4 linked regions of the Homo sapiens genome follow. The protein of the gene in region 4 interacts with the protein of the main gene of each other region in a pairwise test. Each region holds a gene or a part of one and is shown on either strand. Other genes may lie near its edges. The genes, in order: RAB2A, TTPA, MIEF2 and FAM114A2.

What was found.
Region 1: the proteins of FAM114A2 (region 4) and RAB2A interact in binary tests that used the Homo sapiens proteins (3 or more experiments, as listed by UniProt).
Region 2: the proteins of FAM114A2 (region 4) and TTPA interact in binary tests that used the Homo sapiens proteins (3 or more experiments, as listed by UniProt).
Region 3: the proteins of FAM114A2 (region 4) and MIEF2 interact in binary tests that used the Homo sapiens proteins (3 or more experiments, as listed by UniProt).

The regions. Positions count from the first base shown.
Region 1 is NC_000008.11:60,582,971-60,590,010, reverse strand, and holds part of RAB2A (ras-related protein Rab-2A), read right to left. Parts: intron 5,804-7,040; coding exon 5,721-5,803; intron 5,289-5,720; coding exon 5,196-5,288; intron 1-5,195.
Region 2 is NC_000008.11:63,069,051-63,076,090, reverse strand, and holds part of TTPA (alpha-tocopherol transfer protein), read left to right. Parts: intron 1-3,002; coding exon 3,003-3,156; intron 3,157-6,944; coding exon of another isoform or gene 6,945-7,040.
Region 3 is NC_000017.11:18,263,660-18,267,090, forward strand, and holds the end of MIEF2 (mitochondrial dynamics protein MID49), read left to right. Parts: intron 1-50; coding exon 51-1,105; 3' UTR 1,106-2,893; downstream 2,894-3,431. UniProt on the Homo sapiens protein: Mitochondrial outer membrane protein involved in the regulation of mitochondrial organization.
Region 4 is NC_000005.10:154,021,872-154,028,911, reverse strand, and holds part of FAM114A2 (protein FAM114A2), read left to right. Parts: intron 1-628; coding exon 629-763; intron 764-1,577; coding exon 1,578-1,736; intron 1,737-2,389; coding exon 2,390-2,513; intron 2,514-7,040.

The sequences.
Region 1 (7,040 bases), on a different chromosome or scaffold from region 4:
CAGCCTGGGCGACAGAGTGAGACTCCATCTTGGGAAGGGAAAAAAAAAAGAAACAATATAAAATATCAGAGTCTATCACCTATATACATAAGTTCCATCTACTGTTTCATGGAACTTACGTATAAAGGTATAATTTACGAATATTTTGTTATATGTGTAGGTGTATACACAATTTATTTACTAGGTCATGATGTAAAATACATTTCTTACTATAGGTCAAATCAAAAAACTCAAAAGCCATAGTACTTGACGATATACTTAGTGCAAAGTTTTAAAAATACCTCAGTTTTCCAGGCATTACATCATATTGTTGTCTTAGTTCACTCCCTCTGAATCCCACTTAAGTTGCTTAGGTTACTTAAGTATCTTTCTTTTAATTTATGGCCCCTTTTTGTTTAGGGTTTGCATTACAACCCTTACACTATTAAAAAACTTTCATTTTTTAAATCTCTGCTTCCTATTTCTTATATAACCAATTTATTAATAAAATGCCATAGTAAGAAAAATTTGTGTCATCTGTTGCTCTGACTAGGTCACTGCCCTTCACTGGCTCCCTACTGCTTAATGCGTCTAATTCAAAAATTGCTTATTCCCTGTTTTGATGTCTATCCACAGTTCAATTCATCTAAAAATAATCATCTCATTTATTTCTCTCTGTTCTTTCTTGTTCGTTATACTCCTGATTTTAAAGGTCACCCACCTACGATCATCAGAAACATCTCGTTTACATACTATGCTTTGTTTATTTCTTCTCACATTTGAACTATCAGCTCCTAGTGGTCGGTGACCAAATTTAAGCCACCAGTAAGCTGTCACTCATCATGTTTCAGCCACAAGGAAAAAATTGGTAAAATAAAAGGATAAAAATTCTCTTTATTTTCCAAGTATTCTCCTCTTATTATTTCATACCTTGAATGACAGAATAACTATTTCCATCATAGAAAGACTAAAACTTCCCTCCAATAGCTTTATAACCTTAAAAAGGTTTAGTGAGATGATTTAAATGTGGAAAAGAATACCCAAGAAAGGCCTTCAGAGAATATGATAATAGTTTCTTCTCTACACAAAGAAGTAAACAATGTTTAGCTTTTTATAATGTAAATATCACTTAGGTAATATTTTCTCTTAATAGCAAATCTCAATTTCTATTAAAACAACACTCTAAAATCTATACAGTATAACGATGTTTTACATTATAGCTTTTTTGAGGTGTAACAGACATAAAAGAAGTTGTACTTAAATGCAAAATTTGTTGAGTTTTAAGATATGTAAGCCCGTGAAGCCATCAGTCTCCCAAAAGTTTCCTCATACTCCATTGTAATCCATCCCTTCTTGCCCCTGCACCCTAGGCAGCTGATGATCTGCTTTCTGCCACTACAGATTAGTACACATTTACTAGGATTTTTATATAAATGTAATCACATGGTATTTTTGGTCTGAGTTTTTTCACTCTGTAATTATTTTGAGAATCATCCATTTTGCTGCATGTATCAATAGTTCATTCCTCTTTATAGCTGAGTTGTAGTCTGTTGTAATGCTGTATCACTATTTTTCGATTCATCTGTTAATTGATATTTGGGTTGTTTCCAGTTTGGGGCTATTAGAAATAAAGCTGGTATGAATATTTGTACATAATTCTGTGGACACATGAAGACATATTTATGTTGGGTAAACATCTGGGAGTAAAGTGGCTAGGAAATATAGATGTGTGCTTTATTTCTTTTTTTTGAGACAGGGTCTTGCTCTGTGGCCTAGGCTGGAATACAGTGGCATGATCATGGCTCACTGCAGCCTTGACCTCTCAGGCTTAAGTGATCCTACCACCTCAGCCTCTGGAGTAGCTGGGACTACAAGTATGTACCACCATGTTCAGCTACTTTTTTAAAAAATTTCTTATTTTTGTATAGAAGAAGTCTCCCTACATTGCCCAGGCTGGTCTCAAACTCCTAGGCTGAAGCAATCCTCCCGCCTCGGCCTTTTAATTTCTAAAGAAACTACCAAATTGTTTTCCAAAGTGATTGTATCATTTTACGTTCCCATCAGTAGTATATCTTCTGTAGTAATTGCTGGTTCAAATCTTTAGATCATTTTTAAAAAGTGGATGTCTTCTTATTAATGAATTATAAGCATTCTTCATATATTCTAGATATAAATCCTTTGTCAGATACATTTTTCACAAATATTTTCTGCTAGTCTGTAGCTTGTCTTTTCATTTTTGTAACCGTTTTTCTTCAAATTTATTTATTTAAATTGATAGGTAAAATTGCATATATTTATCATGTACAACATATTGTTTTAAAGTATATATACACTGTGGAATGGTTAATCTAGCTAATTTGCATTATCTCACAGTTATCGTTTTTTGTGGTGAGAACACTTAACATCCACTCTTTCAGCATTTTTCCAGAATGCACTATATCATCATTAACCATGTCACGATGTTGTATAATAGTGTAACCGTCTTTTGAAGAACAAAAGTTTTAAATTCAGTTAAAGAACAATTTATTGATTTTTTTTCTGAACTATAAGTTCATGCTTTTCTCTGTCCCATTTAAGAAATGTTTGCCAAAACAGGGTCACTACAATTTGTTTTCTTTTAGAAATTTTAAGTAGTTTTAGCTCTCACACTTAGGTCTATGATCCACTTCCAGTTAATTTTTGTAAATGGTATAATGTAACAGTTGAGGTTCATATTTTTACATATGACTATTAACTGTTTCAGCACCATTTGATGAAAAAGATTACCCCTTCTTCAACTAAATTAGCATCTCTGTCAAAAAATTAATATATCATATATATATGAATCTACTTCTGGAACTTCTTATTCGGCTCTACTGATCTATGTCTGCTTATGCCAAACAATAGTAAATTGACTATAGTATAATAAATCTTAAAATTTGTAGAATAGTAAATTCTCTCCAATATTGTGCCTCTTTGTCAAAGTTGATTTGGCTATTCCGTGGCCTTTGCACATAAACTTTAAAGTCAGCTTGTCAATATCTACCCTCCCAAAAAAGTCTGCCAATGTTTGATAGTTTGATTAGGGTTACAATAAATCTTTTTTTTTTTTTTTTTTTCTTGGAGACAGAGTCTTGCTCTTTTGCCCAGGCTGGAGTGCAGGTGGCACAATCATAGCTCACTGCAACCTTGAGCTCCTGGATTCAAGTGATCCTCTCACCTCTGCTTCCTGAGTAAGTAGAGCTAAAGGCGTGTGCCAGCATGCCTAGCTAGTTTTTTTTAATTATTATTTTATTTTTTGTAGAGATAGGGTCTTGCTACATTCTCAGGCTGGTCTTGAACTCCTTGCCTCATGTGATGCTCCTGCCTTGGCCTCCCAAAGTGCTGGGATTACAGATGTGAGCCATTGTACCTGGCCTTCAATGAATTTTTAGATAAATTTGAGAAGACATCTTATATTTAGTTTTACAATCCATGAACATGGTTATATCTCTTCATTTATTTAGTCTGTTTACAATATTCTCTCTCTTTTTTTTATCTATAGTGATGTCAACCTTTCTTTCCTGATATTGCTAATGTTTGTCTTTTTCCTGATCAGTATCTATTTTATTTTATCTTCTGAAGAATTAGCTTTTGGTTTCATTGGTTTTCTCTCTCTCTTTTTTTTTTAACGGGCAGGAGGCTTTCCTTAACTTTGATTTGCTCTTATTCTAGTTTCTTAAGGCAAAAAAATTAGGCTATTTTCTTTTTTTTTTTGAGACAAGGTCTTGCTTTGTTGCTCAGGCTGGAGTACAGTGGCATGAACACAGTTCACTGCAGCCTCAACTGGGCTCAAGTGATTCTCCCACCTCAGCCTCCTGAGTAGCTGGAATCACAGGAATGCACCATCATGTCTAGCTAAATTTTAAAATTTGTTGTAGAGATGGAGTCTCCCTGTGTTGCCCGGGCTGATCTTGAACTCCTGGGATCAAGCAATCCTCCACCTGGGCCTCCCAAAGTGTTGGGATCACAGGTGTGAGCCACTGTACCTGGCCCTAGGCTGTTCATTTAAAAATTTTCTTGATAGTACTATTTTAACTGCATCTCACACATTTTCAAAGACTGCAGAGAGAGAAGTTAACTTGTGGGAATAAACGCAAATAATTCCTGTCCATGGAAATGCAGACTGTGTCCTGTGGAATACAATTAATACCCTGTGAATACTGTTCAGTTTTGCATCCATCTTGTAAATTCATTTCAGTTTCTTTATTTGATTATCAATGTATAGTAATTTGAGTTCCCTTTTGAACTGGCTGAAATATCTTACCAGTTTCCTTATCTTGTTAATTAATGAGATAAAAGTTTTGAGATGTCTTCATTATCATATAAGTCATGATTTTACCTATCTAAAAACAGCATCTCTTCAGAGTATTTTATTAATATAACCCTAAAGAATGAATGGGCCGGGTGTGGTGGCTTATGCCTATAATCCCAGTACTTTTGGAGGCCCAGGTGGGAGAATCACTTGAGGTTAGGAGCCTGAGACCAGCCTGGGCAACAAAGTGAGACCCTTTCTTTATAAGAAATAAAAAGATAAACTAGCTGTGGTTGTGCATGCCTACAGTCTCAGCCACTTTGGAGGCTGAGGCAGGAGGATTCCCTTGAGCCCGGGAGGCCAAGCTGCAGTGAGCTATGATCACACCACTGCACTCTAGCCTGGGTAACAGAGTGAGTCCCTGTCTCAAACAAAACAAAACAAAACAAAACAAAACAAAACAAAACAAAACAAAAAGAATGGTGCCTAGCATTTTGAAAATACTAATATTTTCTTACCACTGTAAGTTTCTACAAAAATTAGTGAAAACTTTCCCACACTCTTAGAAGTTTATGGAAACTGGTCAAGCAAGAAGGTTTTCCCATATAATAGCATTTTAAATTGACAGCACAAAGATGTTCAATCCAACTCCCCAAATAAATCAGTAGGCTTTACTTTACATCAGTAATCTGATAAAACTCCTTCAGATTACTTTTTAAAGTATTTCTTTACACAAAAACTATTTCTAATAATAACAGTAATAATTTCCAACAAAGCTTATTAACATCATTTTAAAAATCAAAAGAAACACCTTAGAATTTCCGAAATTTTATAATTTAAGAGGCTGGTAACTCACATTTGAACAAATGTTAAGGAAAGTAGTCAAATAAACAGTACAGTCTTCATCACTAATGCAATGTAAGCTCTAAATTAGCCTTTTTACCTTTTATTTCCAATAAGCATAATGACCATGTTGGAATTGGAATGCTGGCGGGCATCTTCTAACCAGGTTGTCAAGTGGTTGAATGTATCTCTCCTAAACATAAATAATAATTTAATTACTATGTTCAAAGCATTTCCCTCAGTATACAACGAACAATATACATATTTTTAAAGAGAACCACTTTTAGCCATATCCACTTATGTAACGAGAAGTAGTTTTAAGCACCATATCTGGGTTTAGAGTTCACTGATTGTATTTCAGTTTATAAATTAAATGTAATCACACTTTAGAAAATTCCAATGAATAAATAATATGGCCGATTTCAATTTGAAGGTGCTAATTCAAATAAGAAAAACAATTCAGTTGCAGGTTTCTGTAGTAAATTTAAATTGGACTCAAGATGCAGTTTTAAAGGTGAGTAGCCGGGGCAGAAAGGCTAAGCTATTCTTTCATTACTGTTAACCACATCTATTTAGAAAAATTCTCTGTATCAACTACTGAATTGCAAAGTTTTCAAGTTCTCACCGTGTAATATCGTAAACTAGTAAAGCTCCTGCTGCACCTCTGTAATACGACCTTGTGATGGAACGAAAGGATTCTTGCCCTGCCTGTAACGAAAAAAAAGGTTGGAGAGTTTCCTTTAATACAATGTCCTCTACATTTTCATATTATTCATATACAGAATAAGAGCAGGTAGGGAAGGAGTGCATAAAGAGAGACAAGAAAACTTAACTTCACCAGTCTTAGGAAAAAGTTACAAAACACCGCTATTGCTCAAGATTGCTCAAGTCAACGAGACGCACATGTAGTGCACATGTAGTCGCTCCTGCAACCTCCCCAGCCCGCAAGACCTCTAAACCCTTTTTGGCAATCCCTGACAACCCAATTTACTGAATGGCTTCACAATACACGAATCATTATTAAAGGACAGAATGGACTCCTAGCAACTAAGCTCTGAAGACAAATTTGAAAGGAAGCAAATAACCCAGAGCCTCACATTTGAATTCAATAACCCACTCCCTGGGGCAGCTGTTGACACTAGAATAAATAAAACCCATTGTAAATAAATGATGAATGACATCTTTACGCCCACCATCTGCTGGTGTAAAGGTTGTTGGAAGGCCAAGGATGCAGATTTTATCAGTTATATCATAAACTGCAGTGAGCTTTCAACAGTCATCAAATGGAATTCTTTGAGCAATCATTTTATTATGAAAAGCAAAATGGTTCTGAATTTAATTTATATAAGTTTTTTTCTCCACACTTAATCAATTTTCTCTGTATTTGATATATAATGCTTGTCAAAAGGCAACAGGATGTAAAAGTCATCTTTATATCCACTTGTGAAACAGACACAAGAGATTATGCAAAGCTAGGTAATTTCTCTTTTACTCATGGTACTAATTTCTGTTTTTTTAAGAATTGCTGGGGAGGAATGTGACTGTTCTGTCTGAGTTTAAAACCGAGACAGCTCTTATAAGAAGTTATTTTTCATTTTTAATCCCTTCTTTTCCTACTTTTGCAAAAACATAAGCATTTTAATTAAGTAAACGTAAAGCCAATTTTAACGATTTTTATATTCAAAATCCCCTAACTTGAAAAATATTGATGTTTACACATTCTGAGTTCTGATCTTGCAATGTAAATATTTAGCCCTTCCCACCCTCAGAATGCGCATGGACGGCTCATATTCTACCCTGTTTAACACTCAACACTCTACAATACCTTGCTCTTGTTGACCCTTCCTCTATACTCCCTCCCTCCCCCATCCCCCACCCCCTGCATGTGACTAAGTGTGTGCTAGGCACTGGGTCCGGCATATAGCAGGCATTCAGAGAAAGCCTG
Region 2 (7,040 bases), on a different chromosome or scaffold from region 4:
GTTGGGCTCAGGAGAGAGCCTGCGCTGTCAAATACACTGCACTTGCCTCTTATATTTAAAACAACAAACATATAAAACAGCTAACCATTCACTTCTCTGCCTGTTCTACATAGTCTCATGAATTCCTTATATCAAGTGATAGCCTAGTTCCTTATACTTTTGTTCCATGTGATAAGCTTTTTATGCTATAATTATCTTTATGGTTTTCCCAAAGCTTTCCAAATTCCATAGATTCTCCCTGCTAATTTCTCTCTAAATGCAGCTTCTTTTATAAAATTTTTCATATCATGTGTCCATTTCAGTTTCCACTCTGCTCCTGATAGTTATTGCCTTTGAACAAATGTGTAATTTCTCATAGCTTTACTTTACTTTTTTTTTTTTTTTTTTTTTTTGAGACGGAGTCTGGCTCTGTCGCCCAGGCTGGAGTGCAGTGGCGCAATCTCGGCTCACTGCAACCTTCGCCTCCCAGGTTCAAGCGATTCTCCTGCCTCAGCCTCCTGAGCACGCACCACCACACCCAGCTAATTTTTGTATTTTTAGAGATGGGGTTTCACCATATTGGCCAGGATGGTCTTGATCTCTTGACCTCGTGATCCATCCGTTTTGGCCTCCCAAAGTGCTGGGATTACAGGCATGAGCCACTGTGCCTGGCTGGAGCTTTACTTTTCTTATTCTTATAATGCCACAACAGTAGCTACTTCTCAGGGTGATGGTGAGGAGGAATTCAAAAGATGGCATTAGACCCTATAAAAGTGCTCCAAATATGGTGGTTCTTATTTTGTTTCAAAGTACATGAAACATGTAAGAAGAAACCTACTCTGTTACAAAACATAGTTAACCCATAACATTTTAAATGTTTATTTACTTCTAATGTTTGCAAAACAGACACCTTCCAATGATGAATATTTATTTTTAGCCACTTCTTTGTTGTTGTTGTGGACATAGGGTGGTTTGTTTGAGAATTGCTCAGTAGCAGTTTATTTACATAATTTATTTATGACAGCTATACTGTGAATTTATGTATCAGTGGATAAGTAAAGACCAAAGTTCCAGGTTTAGATCTTTCAGTTTGCAAAAATTGTGCGAGATAGTGATTTGTGCCTCTTTACAGAAGTCAGTTTTTCAAGTGTGTGGTTCCAGTTGGTTTACTCATGACTTAATTTATTCTTTCATTCAACACGTGTTGTTATCTCCTGGGTGTGCAGCACTCTGCAGAGATGAATAAGCTGAGGCCCCTGCCAGTATTAAACCTAAATGATCCCTTCTAATGAAGCCACAACTTTTATCATTCCACAGGAAAAAAAAACACATTATTTCTATATAGTTACTAATGTGCAGCTTCCAGCATTTTACTTGAATTGGAATGAAAAAGATTTTTATGTCTGAGGAAACTATCAGAAAAGTAAAAAGCATTGTAAAATACTGTTAACAGTTATTCTGGTACCCCCTAAGACTGGAGGAGGAAGAGAAATGCACCGTGTAGAGTAGAATGAAGATATTAGGACCTACAATGTGCCTGTTGTTCTCATGCTTTTGGAAACTGCTATTTAGGTCACCAATTATTTCTTTGTTGGCAAATTGACTTTTTTCTTTCTTACTCCTCTCTTGCATTTAACTCTTAGCAACATTCTCTCTTTTTTCAAAGTTAAGAAAGGTTTATTAAATACAGAAATGAAATAGAGGGAGACAGACAGAGAGAGAAAGAGAGGGAGATAAATCAGAGATGGGGGTGAGGGGGAGCAGAGCAATGCAGATGGCACTGTCCTCCCTCTCGTGTACCAGTGCTGGTTCTCTTCAGGTCCACTCAGTTTCTGTCTTCCTCCAGCCATTCCCAGCCATTAACATTTCCCAAGGCTCAGCATTTCCCTCTCTAGTTTTTGTCGTTTGTAGTTTCTCCTCCAGATCATTGTGATTTTTGTGGTTATAGTTACCTTGTTTATTCCAATTACTCTCAAATATAAAATCTGTCATTTTCTCTGCACTGCAGTCTCACATTAATAAGTCTCTTTAAACTCAAAACAAATGTATTGTAACTTGTGAAAAATTGAGAGTGCCAAAAATCATGAGAATAAAATTAAAATATAAATATAATAATTTTTAAATACATAATTTGCTTTAGTATTTTCCACAATATGCTGGTAGTGTTTGTATGTTTGCGTATATGATTAGCTATTTCCGGTGGTTCTTTTGGAAAGAAAGAAAATGGGATTTCTTCAGACCATATTTTGACAAGATCCAGTATCCAAGTATACTGCTCCTGGGCTCTTCTAACTCATTTGATTGATTTCTATACTTCCTTATTTCAAAAAATACTAAAAGTGGTGTTTCAGCTTTCTATTGCTGAGCAACAAGTCACTCCAAGAATTAGTGGCTGAAAACACAATGATTTATTTGTTTTTGATATCACCAGTTTGGGCAGGGCTCAGTGGGAGTGGTTCATCTCTGTTCCACATGGCATTAGATGGGAACTTGGCTGAGGTCACACTATCCAGGATGTCCTCTCAACCTCCATGCCTCTCTCCACATGAATTGCTATCATTCAGTAATCTCACATAGTGTCTGGATCCCAAATAGTACATTCAGAAGGTACCAGGCTTCTTAAAGCTTGGCCCACACAGTATCACTTCTGCCAGTTGATATTAGATCAAAGCAAGGTGGAAGGCCAGCCTAGATTCAAGGGGAGTGAAGCAAATAGATGCCATCTCTTAATGGGAAGAATGGTGCATGGGTATCAGGAGGGGAGGAATTGGTGGCTGTCTTTGGAGGATATCTACCATGGGTGGTGAATGAAAGTTGCTCAGCTCTGAATTTGTGATTAACCCCTGTCACCTCAGATCCTTGATAAAAGAACTTTCAGTTTTCACAGCTGAAAAGATACCCTAGATTAAACTCTTGACATAATGGATGGCAAAGTTTATACACAATGCCAAAGCTTTTCTTCCATTTTTACAAAATCATTACCATGTATGCCATTTGTAGACAATTTTAATTTTATTTTTCAGTTACTAAAAAACTATTATAAGTGGAGAGCAGAATGTCCAGAAATAAGTGCAGATCTACACCCTAGAAGTATTATTGGCCTCCTAAAGGCTGGCTACCATGGAGTCCTGAGATCCAGGGATCCCACTGGCAGCAAAGTTCTTATTTACAGAATCGGTAAGTCATACACAACTCTTTTTTTTTTCTCCTCTCCTCCAGTTCAGTTGTGTTCCCTCCCCTCTCCTCTTCTCTCTTTCTTCCATTTCTTCCTTGAATACCATATAGAAAGCTTCAATGCATTCATCTTTAGGAATTTGGGCTTTAATTTAAAATTTTAGGTTTTAACTTAGATTTAATTTAGGTCTTAATGTCCCCCAAATATAATAACACTTTGGTAATTGTGAGAAAATTAACAGATACAAGTGAAAATCCTAGTTCCATTCTTCCACACAGTCAACTGTACAAAATAAGAAGAAAGGAAAATAGTGAAGATGAATAGTGTGAGAATATTTTAAAAAATCATGGAAAAGTGTTTCAAAAATGCTTAGTAGGAAGTGCAAATAAGAATTCTGAACTATTGGCTGGGCATGGTGGCTCACACCTGTAATCCCAGCTGAGGTCAGGAGTTCGAGACCAACCTGGCCAACATGGTGAAACCCCGTCTCTACTAAAAGTACAAAAATTAGCTGGGTGTGGTGGTGCATACCTGTAATCCCAGCTACTCGGGAGGCCGAGGCAGGAGGATTGCATGAACCTGGGAGGCAGAGGTTGCAGTGAGTCAAGATTGCGCCATTGCACTCCAGCCTGGGCAAAAGAACAAGAGTCCGTCTCAAACAAACAAACAAAAAACAACCAGAATTCTGGGCTATAATGTAAACTCCATGAGATTGTGGATTTCATCTACTCTGTTTGCTGGTGTATCCCAAGCACTGAAAACATGGTCTGGTACTTGGTAGGTAGTCACTAAATATTTGTGGAATGAGTGAGTGAATGACTAGTTCGAAAATGCCCCAGGCCGAGGAGCAAGAGGCTCATTCTCTTGGGTGGAGGAGGGTGCAGAGGAAAGGCAACTCCTCTGGGAGCTGTTGCAGACACGGTATTCCATTAACTCCTGTTTATTCTCATTGCATCCCCTTTTTTTCTATTAGGTGTAGCTAGTGTTTCTTGTAGGTTGGTGTCTTAGTGTATTCAGGCCACTATAACAAAATGACGTAGACTGGGTGACTTATAAAAACAGAATTTTATTTCTCACAGTTCTGGAGGCTGGGAAATCCAAGATCAAGGCACTGGCAGATTTGGTGTTTGGTGAGGGCCTGCTACCTGGTTCCTAGGTGACATCTCTCACTTTAACCTCACATGTTGGAAGTGAAAAGGCATCTCTCTTGGAACTCATAAGGGCACTAATCCCATTCATGAGGGTTCCATCCTCATGACCTCATCATCTTGCAAAGGGCCCACCTCTTACTACCATCACTTTGGGAGTTAGAATTTCAGCATATGACTGTTGAGGGGATGCAAACATTCAGATCATAGCAGTTGGTGACCTATAACTTCTGTCCTCCCTCAGACCTGCATATGATTAAAAATGGCCGGCACAGGAGAACGACTCACACTATTCCCAGAATTTCTCATGGCCCAGTTGAAGGACAAAGATAAACCAACATTTCATGACCAGAATTTTTTAATTATAATTTTACAGAAACAACTATATCTTTAAAGATTTAAAATATTTAAATATTTGCATTTCTTGCCTGCTTATAGATAAGATACCTGCCTGTAACTCAACTGCTTGCCATACTGCAAGAAGTTACTGTATTTAATTTTTGAAAGGATATTGGAAGATCGAGTAAAATGATTTGGGGCTGTTTTTTAATTTTTTTTGCCCTAGCTTAAGTGTCAAATAAAATTGAGTTAATCATGAAATCCCATCTATAAAACAGACATCATGATCTTCCTGTTCTTTCATTGCTGCACCAGTGTCAGAGGAAATTGAATGAGCTCATAGCAATGAAGTTCCTTGAGCTTCTTAGGGGTAGTCTTGCCAGATTTAACAAAGTACCTATGTTTTATTTAGGAAATAAACCTATATGTTATAAAAATAAAGGATGCCCAGTTATTTGAATTTCAGATAAACAACAGTTTTTTTAAAGTATGTATGGAGCATTCTTATGTTAAAAATTATATACTGGTTATCTGAAATTCAACTTTAATTGAGTGTTGTATATTTTTACCTGGCAACTCTACTCAGGGATCCAAGAAACATAAAACTGAAACCTGCAGCTAATTATTTTTGTAAATGTCTTGGCTCTGCATTGTCTGGCTAGATTTTATTGTGTCTAGTTTGTTCATAAAGTGACTGAGGCAGGTGAAGAAGTAAAAGTGACACCTTGATAGTGAGAAAGCAGATGTGCAGTTTTGATCATAAATACCTTAACACTGAACCAGTAGGGGTATTTTTCTGGGCCTCATGTAGCACATTAATTTAGAAGTATATTGTTTAACTCAAGAGATTTGAAAATCAAGAAAACATGTAACTTAGTGATGGTCAGAACAGGAAGGTATGTTGCAAATCTCCTGTATGTTCTGTTATTCTAGGATGAAAGGGAGAAACTCAGAAAGTTTTATGAGTAAAATGAAAACTTTTCTAAATTTGATTGAATTAATGGGAGGAGCTAAAGAAGGAAATCTGTGGTGGAACTTTTCGGTAGAACTTTAGCATAACCACCTTCTCTAGATACCATCTCTGTGCAGTAAAAGCAATGAGAAAATGCACACAGCCCTTTCCTCCATGCGGGCCGGGCAACCCAAGGTGAAGCTAAGTTTTGACCTTTATCAGCCAACATGCTGTAGGATATAATTTTATGTTTTTTGAGATCCCATAGTATACTACTAGCAGCAAAAGTAAAATTTAACAGTGAGTGTGAAGTTTTGACTGTGGCTTAGTTCTTGTGAATACAGGTTCTGGAGCATGTGACCTGGATTGGAATCTCAGCTCTGCTACATTCTAGCTGTGTGAAACACTATGTAGCTGTAACTGCATTTTCTCATCTGTAAAATGGGCACATTGAAAAGCTGTCACATAGGGTTGCTGTAAGCATTAAATCAATCTATCAGTCTGTCTATCTAAAATATAACAAGAGCATTACCTGGTACATAAAAGCACTCAATACATATTAAGTAGATACTGGAGAAGGAATTCAAAATATAAGGTATATTTTTCTTTTGCCTCAATGGAGCTTAAATTCTAGCCAGCACTGTACCATAGAACTTTCTATGATGATGAAACTGTTCTACAATAGACACTATTCTCATGTGGCTATTGAGCACTTGAAATGTGACTACTGCAACTAAGAAACAGATTTTTTTTTTTTTTTTCTAAGCTAGGGTCTTACTCTGCCATCTGGGCTAGAGTGCAGTGGCACAATCATAGCTCACTGCAGTCTTGAACTCCTGGGCTCAAGTGATCCTCCCACTTCGGCTTTTGGAGTAGCTGGGACTAGAGGCATGTGCTACCACACTCAGCCAGTTTTTTTATTATTTTTATTTTTTAGAGATGCATTCTCACTATGTTGCCCAGGATGGTCTCACTCCTGGCCTCAAGCAATCCTCCCCCATCAGACCCACAAAGTGCTGGGATTCTAGGCATGAACCACTGCACCTGGTGAAACTAAATCTTTAATTTAAATTTGAATGACCACACATGGCTAATGGCTACCATATTAGCCAGTGTAGGCCAAACAATTATGTTGGTTGGCTCAGAACTTAGGACATAAACTATTTTTTTGATTGGCAAACTTCATATGTTCTTTTTTTTTTTTTTAATCATTATAGCATTCAGCCAATGTCTGAAGTTAGTATAGTATTTTTGATCTGGGTTATCCATGGGTTGATTGTTCAAATTCTTATGAGAAATCTGAGGCTTGTTTTTTTGTTTTGTTTTGTTTTGTTTTGTTTTTTTGAGACAGAGTCTTGTTCTGTTGCCCAGGCTGGAGAGCAGTGGGCCATCTCGACTCACTACAACCTCTGCCTCCCGAGTTCAAGCGATTCTCCTGCCTCAGCTT
Region 3 (3,431 bases), on a different chromosome or scaffold from region 4:
TAACTAATCACAGGCTGTTCCGACATGTTCCCCGCCCCTTCACTCTGCAGAAGGGCCTGCAGAAACTGATCCTGAGGTGACACCACAGCTCAGCTCCCCAGCACCGCTGTGTCTGACACTGCAGGAGAGGCTGCTGGCCTTCGAGCGGGACCGTGTGACCATCCCAGCAGCCCAGGTGGCTTTGGCCAAACAGCTGGCTGGCGACATCGCCCTGGAGCTGCAGGCCTACTTTCGGAGCAAGTTCCCGGAACTGCCCTTTGGGGCATTCGTGCCTGGGGGGCCGCTCTACGACGGGCTGCAGGCGGGGGCTGCGGACCATGTGCGTCTCCTGGTGCCACTGGTGCTGGAGCCGGGCCTGTGGAGCCTGGTGCCGGGCGTGGACACTGTGGCGAGGGACCCTCGCTGCTGGGCCGTGCGCAGGACGCAGCTTGAGTTCTGCCCCCGTGGGAGCAGCCCCTGGGACCGCTTCCTGGTCGGGGGCTACCTCTCCTCCCGCGTCCTGCTGGAGCTACTCCGCAAGGCGCTGGCTGCTTCTGTCAACTGGCCGGCCATTGGCAGCCTTCTCGGGTGCCTGATCCGGCCCAGCATGGCCTCGGAGGAGCTGCTGCTCGAGGTGCAGCACGAACGCCTGGAGCTCACTGTGGCTGTGCTTGTGGCAGTCCCTGGGGTCGATGCTGACGACCGCCTCCTCTTGGCCTGGCCCCTGGAGGGGCTGGCGGGGAACCTCTGGCTGCAGGACCTGTATCCAGTGGAGGCTGCTAGGCTGCGAGCCCTGGACGACCATGACGCTGGGACTCGCCGGCGGCTGCTGCTGCTGCTGTGTGCTGTCTGCCGTGGTTGCTCGGCTCTGGGGCAGCTAGGCCGGGGTCACCTGACCCAGGTGGTCCTGCGTCTGGGGGAGGACAACGTGGATTGGACGGAGGAGGCCTTGGGTGAGCGCTTCCTGCAAGCCCTGGAGCTGCTCATCGGCAGCCTGGAGCAGGCCAGCCTGCCCTGCCACTTCAACCCCAGCGTGAACCTCTTCAGCAGCTTGCGTGAGGAGGAGATTGACGACATTGGCTATGCGCTATACAGTGGCCTACAGGAGCCCGAGGGGCTGCTCTAGGTGGGTGGAAACGGGTGGTTGCCATGTTTTCTAATGCTGGGGAGCTGCACCCACCTCCCTTCCAGGGATTTGAATAGTGGTTTTTCTCTAGCTTTTTGCCAGAACAAAGGAGGGTACATTACTTAAACCCAGGGCATCAGGATGTGCTTGGGCTATGGTGGCCATAAACCCTGAGCCCAGAGAGCTTGGGTCACTGTCACCTGAGTGCAGCTGGGCTGCCTCAGGCAGCTTGGAGTGCCAGCCATTCCTGCAAGCACCGTTTCAGCTCTTGGGGCCAACCCCAGGACCTTTGGCTCTGTCCATCACCAGCAACCAATCCACCAACAGAATGTGGTTTCTGCCATCCTGGGCAGAAGCTGAAGGCCAGCTTCACATTTCTGCTGAGAGAAGGTGACTTAACGCCTTTTCCGGCCCTAGCTCCAGGCGTTTTGAGGCGTCTGGTGCCTGATGGTAGGTATGGTGTGTTTGTTCTGTCCCCCAGGGGCTGGAGTCACCTGGTGCCCCTGAAGGACAGATTTTTGGCTGTTAAAGGATGGCATTTTCCTGCTGTCTTCTGTGCGTTTAGTTTTCTTGCTGAGCGGGAGCTCAGTATGACTTGCCACCCACCTGATACCTCAGGGCAAGGCCCTTTTTCCCTCCAGCCAGGTGAGTGTTTTCTTCAGGCAGCTGAGGGTCCTGGGGGAGCTGAGGCTCTGTGCTGCACCCCCAGCCCACAGCTGGGGCATCTCACTGGAGCTGTTCCAGGCCCCACTGGAGAGCAGAGGACCTGATCCCCCACTAGAGAGGTCCGGTGTGCACAGCCGGCCTCCCAGTGTGCCAAAATGAACTGCTCTCAGCTGATGGCTGTATTCTGACTTTGAAGCCTGTTAAGAGGTAGCAAGGGGGCTAGAGGAGGGAGATTCCACCTCCCCTCCCAAGTGACCCTCCTCCTGCCTCTGGTATCCTTCCTTTTGAAACGAAGCTCAGCTTCGAAGATGTGAACAAGAATAAAAGGAAAAAATTCTAATGTATATATAACTCAGGCTGGATAAGGGAGTCTTGGTGCTTTCATACGCAGCTGTTGAGGGTTTTCTGTAAGTCCTGTGGCTTGTCCTGGCACTTTGGCAAGAGTGCTTGAGGTCAATTGGAGGTGGTAGAGTTTACTTTAAAAAGTAGCATCTTGGCCGGGTGTGGTGGCTCGCATCTGTAATCCCAGCACATCGGGAGGCCGAGGCGGGCGGATCACGAGGTCAAGAGATCGAGACCATCCTGACCAACATGATGAAACCCCAACTCTACTAAAAAGACAAAAATTAGCTGGGCGTGGTGGCACGCACCTATAGTCCCAGCTACTCGGGAGGCCGAGGCAGGAGAATTGCTTGAACCCGGGAGGTAGAGGTTGCAATGAGCTGAAATTGCACCACTGCACTCCAGACTGGCGACAGAGCAAGACTCTGTCTCAAAAAAATAAATAAATAAGCATCTTGGCCCCGCGCTGTGGCTCACGCCTATAATCCCAGCACTTTGGGAAGCCGAGGCCGGTAGATCACCTGAGGTTGGGAATTCAAGACCAGGCTGACCAACGTGGAGAAACTCCATCTCTGGTAAAAATTCAAAAAAATTAGCTGGGCATGGTGGCACATGCCTGTAATCCCAGCTACTTGGGAGGCTGAGGCAGGAGAATTGCTTGAACCCGGGAGGCGGAGGTTGTGGTGAGCTGAGATCGTGCCAGTGCACTCCAGCCTAGGCAACAAGAGTGAAACTCTGTCTCAAAATAAAATAAAATAAAATAATAATAGTAATAATAAATTAGCATCTCAGTCTGTTTGGGCTGTGATAACAAAATGCCATAGACTAGGTGGCTTATAAACATCAGAAATTTATGTCTTACCATTTTGGAGGCTAGAAATCCAAGAGTGAGTCACAGATTCCATGTTTGGTTGAGAGCCCACATCCTGGTTCATAGGTGTCCCCATCTAGCTGTCCTCATGTGGAGGAAGGGGGGAAATGCTCTCCTAGGGTCTCTTATAAGGAAACTAAGCCCACCCATGGGGTGGGGGCCCACATTCATGATCGAATCACTTCCCAAAGACCCCATCTCCTGTTAGCAGTGCCTTGGGGGTTAGGATTTCAGCATACAAGTTGAAGGGGACACAGACTTTCTGTCCGTGACAAGTAAGGTAAGTGGAAGGAAAAGATGAAAAGCTTGGTGTTGCTTTAGTAATGGGAACCAGCCAGTTTGGGATGTTTCTTCCCGCAAGGCTGAACTGCTGAGCCCTGCACCATACTTTCTGTAATTAGTGGGCTGTTGACAGCCCTTCAGCCATGCTCATCATTTTTTAGAAAC
Region 4 (7,040 bases):
TCAGATCTCCCCACCATCTTGTGTCCTCTCCCAGTTTTCTGTGTCTTCTGCTCTCCCCCTCTCCTGCACCAAGATAACCATAATCCTGACTTCCACCATCATAGGTTAATTTTGCCTGCATTTCAGCTTTACATAAGTGGAATCATATATAGTATCTAACTTCTTTCATGCAACATTATATTTGTATAATTTACCTATGCTGCAGTTTGTGTGGTAGATTTGATTTTCTTTGTTGTATTTCATTGTGAAGCTTTGTCACGTTTTATTTATTCATTCCACAGTTGGTGAGCATTGGGGTAGTTTTCAGTTTGTAGCTATTACAAGCAGAGCTGTTATGAACATTTTTGTGCATGTCTTCTGATGAACCTCTGTACTTATTTCTGTTAGGATGTAACCATGAGTGGAATTTCTGGGTCATGCAGCTGGAGTAGATATTGACAAACAGTTTTCTAATGTGGTTATACCTATTTACGTTCCCACAAGCAGTGTGTGATTGTTTCATTTGCTTTACATTCTTGCCAGTGCTTGGTATTGTTAGCCACTATTTTTATATAATAAATACATAATAAAAATGCATAAAAATATGTTTTCTTAATATTGTTGTAATGAGGTTGCATGTATTTTCTAGGGAAAGAGTGTTATAAGTGGGGGTTTGGATGCCTTAGAATTCATTGGAAAAAAGACAATGGATGTGATAGCAGAAGGGGATCCTGGATTTAAAAGAACCAAGGGTCTGATGAACCGAAATGCTACACTATCTCAGGTACTGATTATCCTTACCTGTTTACTTCCTGTTTCTGTTTTGATCTGTATTTTTGCCTTTGTTTACTTGGAACCTTGTTAGTGTTTTCTTTTCAAGCATTTTCAATAATGTTTATTCAGGCGTTTTTTTGGGGGGATCAGGGATGGGTGAGAGCTCTACTGCTTACAAAAATACCCAGCTCTTTTTCTCCTCCTCTTTCTGCAGGAGCCTCCCATCAGTGCAGTGCAAAATGCTAAACCCTGTCAGGGTTTTTTGTTTGTTTGTTTGTTTGTTTTAATGTTTAAATCACTTTCAGAGAAACACCTGGTTCCTTGGGTGTGATTTGCACTGTCTAGGATCAAATTATGTGGTCAGGCACGGTGGCTCACGGCTGTAATACCAGCACTTTGGGAGGCCGAGGTAGGTGAATCAGTTGAGGTCAGGAGTACAAGATCAACCTGACCAACATGATGAAACCCCGTCTCTTCTAAAAATACCAAAATTAGCTGGACGTGGTGGCGTATGCCTATAATCCCAGCTACTTGGGAGGCTGAAACACGAGAATAGCTTAAACCCGAGAGGCAGAGGTTGCAGTGAGCAGAGATCGTGCCACTGCACTCCAGCCTGGGTGACAGAGTGAAACTCCGTCTCAAATTATGTGTGATCGTTTTTCTTTCTGCAGCTCCTGAGCCCACCAGATTTGAATAGCAGTGCCAAGAATGAAAGGGCAATCCTCTGTACTCTAACCTGTCTAAGCTTTGCTTCCTTCAATTCTCAGAACTCACCCTTGAGCTCTCATTGTTTGCTACAGTGTAATGCCTCCATCTCTTTTTAGGTTTTACGAGAGGCGAAGGAGAAAGAAGAGATACGGACCTCCAATGAGGTTACCGTGGAAACAGACAAGAAAACTCATTATGGGCTACTCTTTGATGAATTTCAAGGCCTTTCACATCTAGAAGCTCTGGAGATGCTTTCCCAAGAAAGTGAAATAAAGGTAATTCCAAGCCAAAATCTCAACTGGAAAAAGTCTTCAAGTAAAAGAATGCTGCATGGTTTCCTTTCTCTTTGTACATTTGGAAGATGAAGTGTATGTTTTGTTAGAGGCTTGAGATGCCTTCGAAATACTACCACAAAATAAATTTAAAAACTAATGTTTGATTGAACTAATTGCTAAAAGCAGAATTAGTCAAGTATTATTTCTTTAAATTTAAACAAAAAAGGTTAACAAAGAGGTCTTAATAGGACATGTGTTATTTTTCCTTCGTTTTGGTCTTTTTTTTTTTTTTTTAGTTTCTTTGGCCTAGGCTGCCAAGAAACCTGTTGACTTGAGCTGCCAATTTGTGTACAGTTACCTGTTAGCTTTTAATTGATTTAAGATTATCTAATTTTTTTGTTATTTCTAAGCTGTTGCTAAACACTGATAATTTCCAGGAATTTCTGGCTGGTATTACTTTTAGAAGCACAGAGTCTCCCTACCTTTCTGTCATAACCAGCCTCTTGTGTTAAGGTTCTTAAGGAATAACTTGTGCTGGCTGATGAGCTCATAATTTTGACTTCAATATGATCTTTTTATAGTCTCTTCCCTATTTGTGAATGTTTTTCTTTTCTTTCATACTCCTACAACATTTTGTTCTTGTATCCATTCAGGTGAAATCTATCCTTAATTCTCTGAGTGGAGAAGAATTAGAGACTCTAAAAGTTGAATTAGAGCAACTCAAAGAAACATTTTCTCTAGCAGAATTTTGTGAAGAAGAGGAAGAAGAGAAAAAAGGTAATATGAAAATTTAGTATCTGAGTGGAGAGGATGCAGTGTGTTTGTATGCAGTGCATTGCCCTTGAAATAAATTATTTACTCTTATTACACTGGCTTGATTTTACTTTTTTGGTGAAAATTTTTATGCAAATTCTCTGTGTAAAATTCTCTGCAGCCTTGCACCTGACTAGGCATTGATGGGGGCAGTTGGCCTTATGCCCATGTCTCCCTGCCTCCTTCCAACCAAACCCTTTGTGGCTTCTCAAGGTCTAATCTTGCAACTCACATCTTTGCCTATTTTTGCAGTTAGAAAGCTGTTCTCATCAGATTCTTGCCTCAGTTTGACTGGTCATTCATATGAGCTTTCATATTCCTAGGTACTTTACCTCTGCCTCTCTGACTCTTGTAACCCCTGATTCTGTCTTGAATTGAAGCATGCAGGATGGCAGTTATCTAAAATGTGGGTGATAGTTTGTCTTTTTTTATTTTGAAAACTCTTATACCATATTTTAATATCTTCATTTCTCAGAAAATGTAAATGTAGATACTATGTATATTTGCAAAATTATCAGGAAATGAGATGGGTCAGGAAATGAGATGGCTGACGTAAAGTATAATTGCCAGGCAACTGAATATTAAGTTCTAAGGGTTGTTTTATTGACATTTTAGCTGGAAATATTTCTAAGATATACACTAACTGACCTTTTTTTTTTAAAAAAGTGGAATCTAATGAATACAGTTTTGCCTTTTCTTCATGAAATAATCAGTTATAAACATTAAAAGTGAATGGAAAAATTCTCTCAGGTTTCATTAAGACATAGGGCCAATCACCCATGTAGTAGGTTAAATCAGTGATGAACAAAGTGTGGTCTGTAGACCCTTGAATTCCCAGAACCCTTTCAGGGAGTCTATGAGTCAGAACTCTGCATCATAATACTAAGATGTTGTCTACTTAGGAATTTTTTAAAAATTATAATGAGTTTTTTTTCTGCTTTGGCATTTGTGCTGTTGGTGAATAACAATGATGCATAAAATTGCTGGTGCCATAACATGGATCAAGATGTTAGCAGACTCTACTAGTGTCATTGCATTTTCATTGCCATGCATTGGCAGTTAAAAAAAAAAGTGCCAGTTTTATTTAATCTTGTCCTTGATGAAGCAGTAAAAATTATTAATTTTATTAAATCTTTACCTTTAAGTATGCATCTTACAAATATTCTGTGTGATGCCTACTGAAGTATGATGGTTGTCTCAGGAAAAGCACTTACATTATTTGAGTTGTGAGCTGAACTATGTGCTTTTTTCGTGGAATACCATTTTTACTTGAAAGGATAACAGTCACAGAGACTATTCAGAATAGGATAATTGGTACACATTTTCCTGAAAATGAATGAAGTGAACCTTTTCTTCAAGGAGAGCAACTAATTTATTTGTGAGTCATGATAAAAATTTAAGTGAAGGTTGAAACTTTGTAAAACATATTTGCTGCTGTGGTGAGCTTGACAGCTTCCCAGTGCTTATAGACTCTTCTTATGAAATTGGTGGTGATCATATTTGTTAAAATATCACTTTTTGATATTTTAACAAGGAAATGTGTCAGCATTTGGAAAGTCTGCATAACTCAGAGAACCAATATTTTCTAAATGTCAAATCACCATGGGTAAAAGACCTAATGGATTTTAATTTAGTGTACAAAATTTTATGATATGGTTTCAGGTATACTGCAATATGGTTCATTGCAACTAATTTTTAAGAAACGACCACTTGTTGAGTTTTAATGTGGTATTAAAGAATATTAATAATGATCTGAAAAGGCTATTAAAATACTTCTTCCCTTTCCAACTATGTATCTTTGTAAAGTTGGATTTTCTTCATATACTTAAAGCAACATAACAGACTGAATATAAAAGTAGATAAGAGAATTTAGCTGTCATCTGTTAAACTAGATATTAAAGAGATTCAACCCTGATGGCACTGTTCTCACTAAACTTTTTCTTTTTTGAAAAATATAGTTTTTTAAAATAAAAAGTAGGTTTATGTTAATAAGTGGTATGGGTTTACTGTTTTGAATGAATTAATAAACACTTTGTTTTAGCTTTATATAAATATTTATAACTTTTTATATGTATATGTATAAAACTTACACTAAAAAAGCTCTTTAATGTTCTCAGAAAGTTTTACAAGAACAAGGTCCTGAGACCAACAAGTTTGAGAATTACCAGATTAAATGACCTAAACTGCAATGCTTTTTAGAAATGTCTCTGATTGCTTTTTAGAATTGTACATCTTTATTTCTTTCTGTTCATTTATCTGTTCATCTTTTACTTCACTGTTAGCTGGCTTCTGATATCCCCTGAATCTTATTTGGTTTTCTATTTCTAATCTGTGGGTGAGAAACCAGGTAACTAATTTTATTTGAGATGTCTATTAAAAGCAAAGAGCTCTGAGTGAGGGTCTTAGAGTCTTTCTTGTGACAGGAAACATAAAGTTAACTGTGTGGATTCTCTACAAACAGGGACTTTTTTTTCTTTTTCTTTTTAAATCAGTTAAGGAGAAGAAATATACATGTATATCATTTATAATTACATAGTTATCTTTACCAGTGCTTTTTGTCTTCTGTTTTTTTCAATTTTTTTTATTTCCATAGGTTATCAGGGAACAGGTGGTGTTTGATTACATAAGTTCTTTACTGGTGATTTGTGAGAATTTGGTGCACCTATCACCTGAGCAGTATACACTGCACCCAATTTGTGCACCTGAGCAGTATACACCACACTCCCTTCCCATCCTTTCCCCCTGAGTCCCCGAAGCCCATTGTGTCATTCTTAAGCCTTTGCATCCTCATAGCTTAGCTCCTACTTGTGAATGAGAGCATATGATGTTTGGTTTTCCATTCCTGAGTTACTTTACTTAGAACAATAGCATCCAGTCTCATCCAGGTCGCTGCGAATGCATTAATTCATTCGTTTTTATGGCTGAGTAGTATTCCATCATGTATATATATACCACAGTTTCTTTATCTACTCGTTGATTGATGGGCATTTGAGTTGGTTCCACATTTTTGCACTTTTGAATTGTGCTGCTTAAACATGCGTGTGCAAGTATCTTTTTCTTTTTTAAATTATTTTATTAGTATACTTTAAGTTTTAGGGTACATGTGCACAACGTGCAGGCCTGTTACGTATGTATACATGTGCCGTGTTGGTTTGCTGCACCCATCAACTCATCATTTATGTTAGGCACTTCTCCCAATGCTATCCCTCCCCCATCCCCTGACCCCACGACAGGCCCAGGTGTGTGATGTTCCCCGCCCTGTGTCCAAGTGTTCTCATTGTTCAGTTCCCACCTATGGGTGAGAACAAGTGGTGTTTGGTTTTCTGTCCTTGTGATAGTTTGCTCAGAATGATGGTTTCCAGCTTCATCCATGTCGCTACAAAGGACATGAACTCATCCTTTTTTATGGCTGCATAGTATTGCATGGTGTATATGTGCCACATTTTCTTAATCCAGTCTATCATTGATGGACATTTGGGTTGGTTCCAAGTCTTTGCTATTGTGAATAGTGCTACAATAAACATATGTGTGCATGTGTCCTCATAGTAGCATGATTTATAATCCTTTGGGTATATATCCAGTAATGGGATCACTGGGTCAAATGGTATTTCTAGTTCTAGATCCTTGAGGAATCACCACACTGTCTTCCACAATGGTTGAACTAGTTTACACTCCCACCAACATTGTAAAAGCATTCCTATTTCTTCACATCCTCTCCAGCACCTGTTGTGTCCTGACTTTTTAATGATCGCCATTCTAACTGGTGTAAGATGGTATCTCATTGTGGTTTTGATTTGCATTTCTCTGATGACCAGTGATGATGAGCATTTTTTCACGTGTCTATTGGCTGCATACATGTCTTCTTTTGAGACATATCTGTTGATATCCTTTGCCCACTTTTTGATGGGGTTGTTTGATTTTTTCTTGTAAATTTGTTTAAGTTCTTTGTAAATTCTGGATATCAGCCCTTTGTCAGATGGGTAGATTGCAAACATCTTCTCCCATTCTGTAGGTTGCCTGTTCACGCTGATGGTAGTTTCTTTTGCTGTGCAGAAGCTCTTTAGTTTAATTAGATCCCATTTATCTGTTTTGGCTTTTGTTGCCATTGCTTTTGGTGTTTTAGTCATGAAGTCCTTGCCCATGCCTATGTCCTGAATGGTATCGCCTAGGTTTTCTTCTAGGGTTTTTATGGGTTTAGGTCTAAGTCTAATCCATCTTGAATTGATTTTTGTATAAGGTGTAAGGAAGGGATCCAGTTTCAGCTTTCTCCATATGGCTAGCCAGTTTTCCCAGCACCATTTATTAAATAGGGAATCCTTTCCCCATTGCTTGTTTTGGTCAGGTTTGTCAAAGATCAGATGGTTGTAGATGTGTGATGTTATTTCTGAGGCCTCTGTTCTGTTCCATTGGTCTATATTTCCCGTTTGGTACCAGTACCATGCTGTTTTGGTTACTGTGGCCTTGTAGTATAGTTTGAAGTCTATATGATGC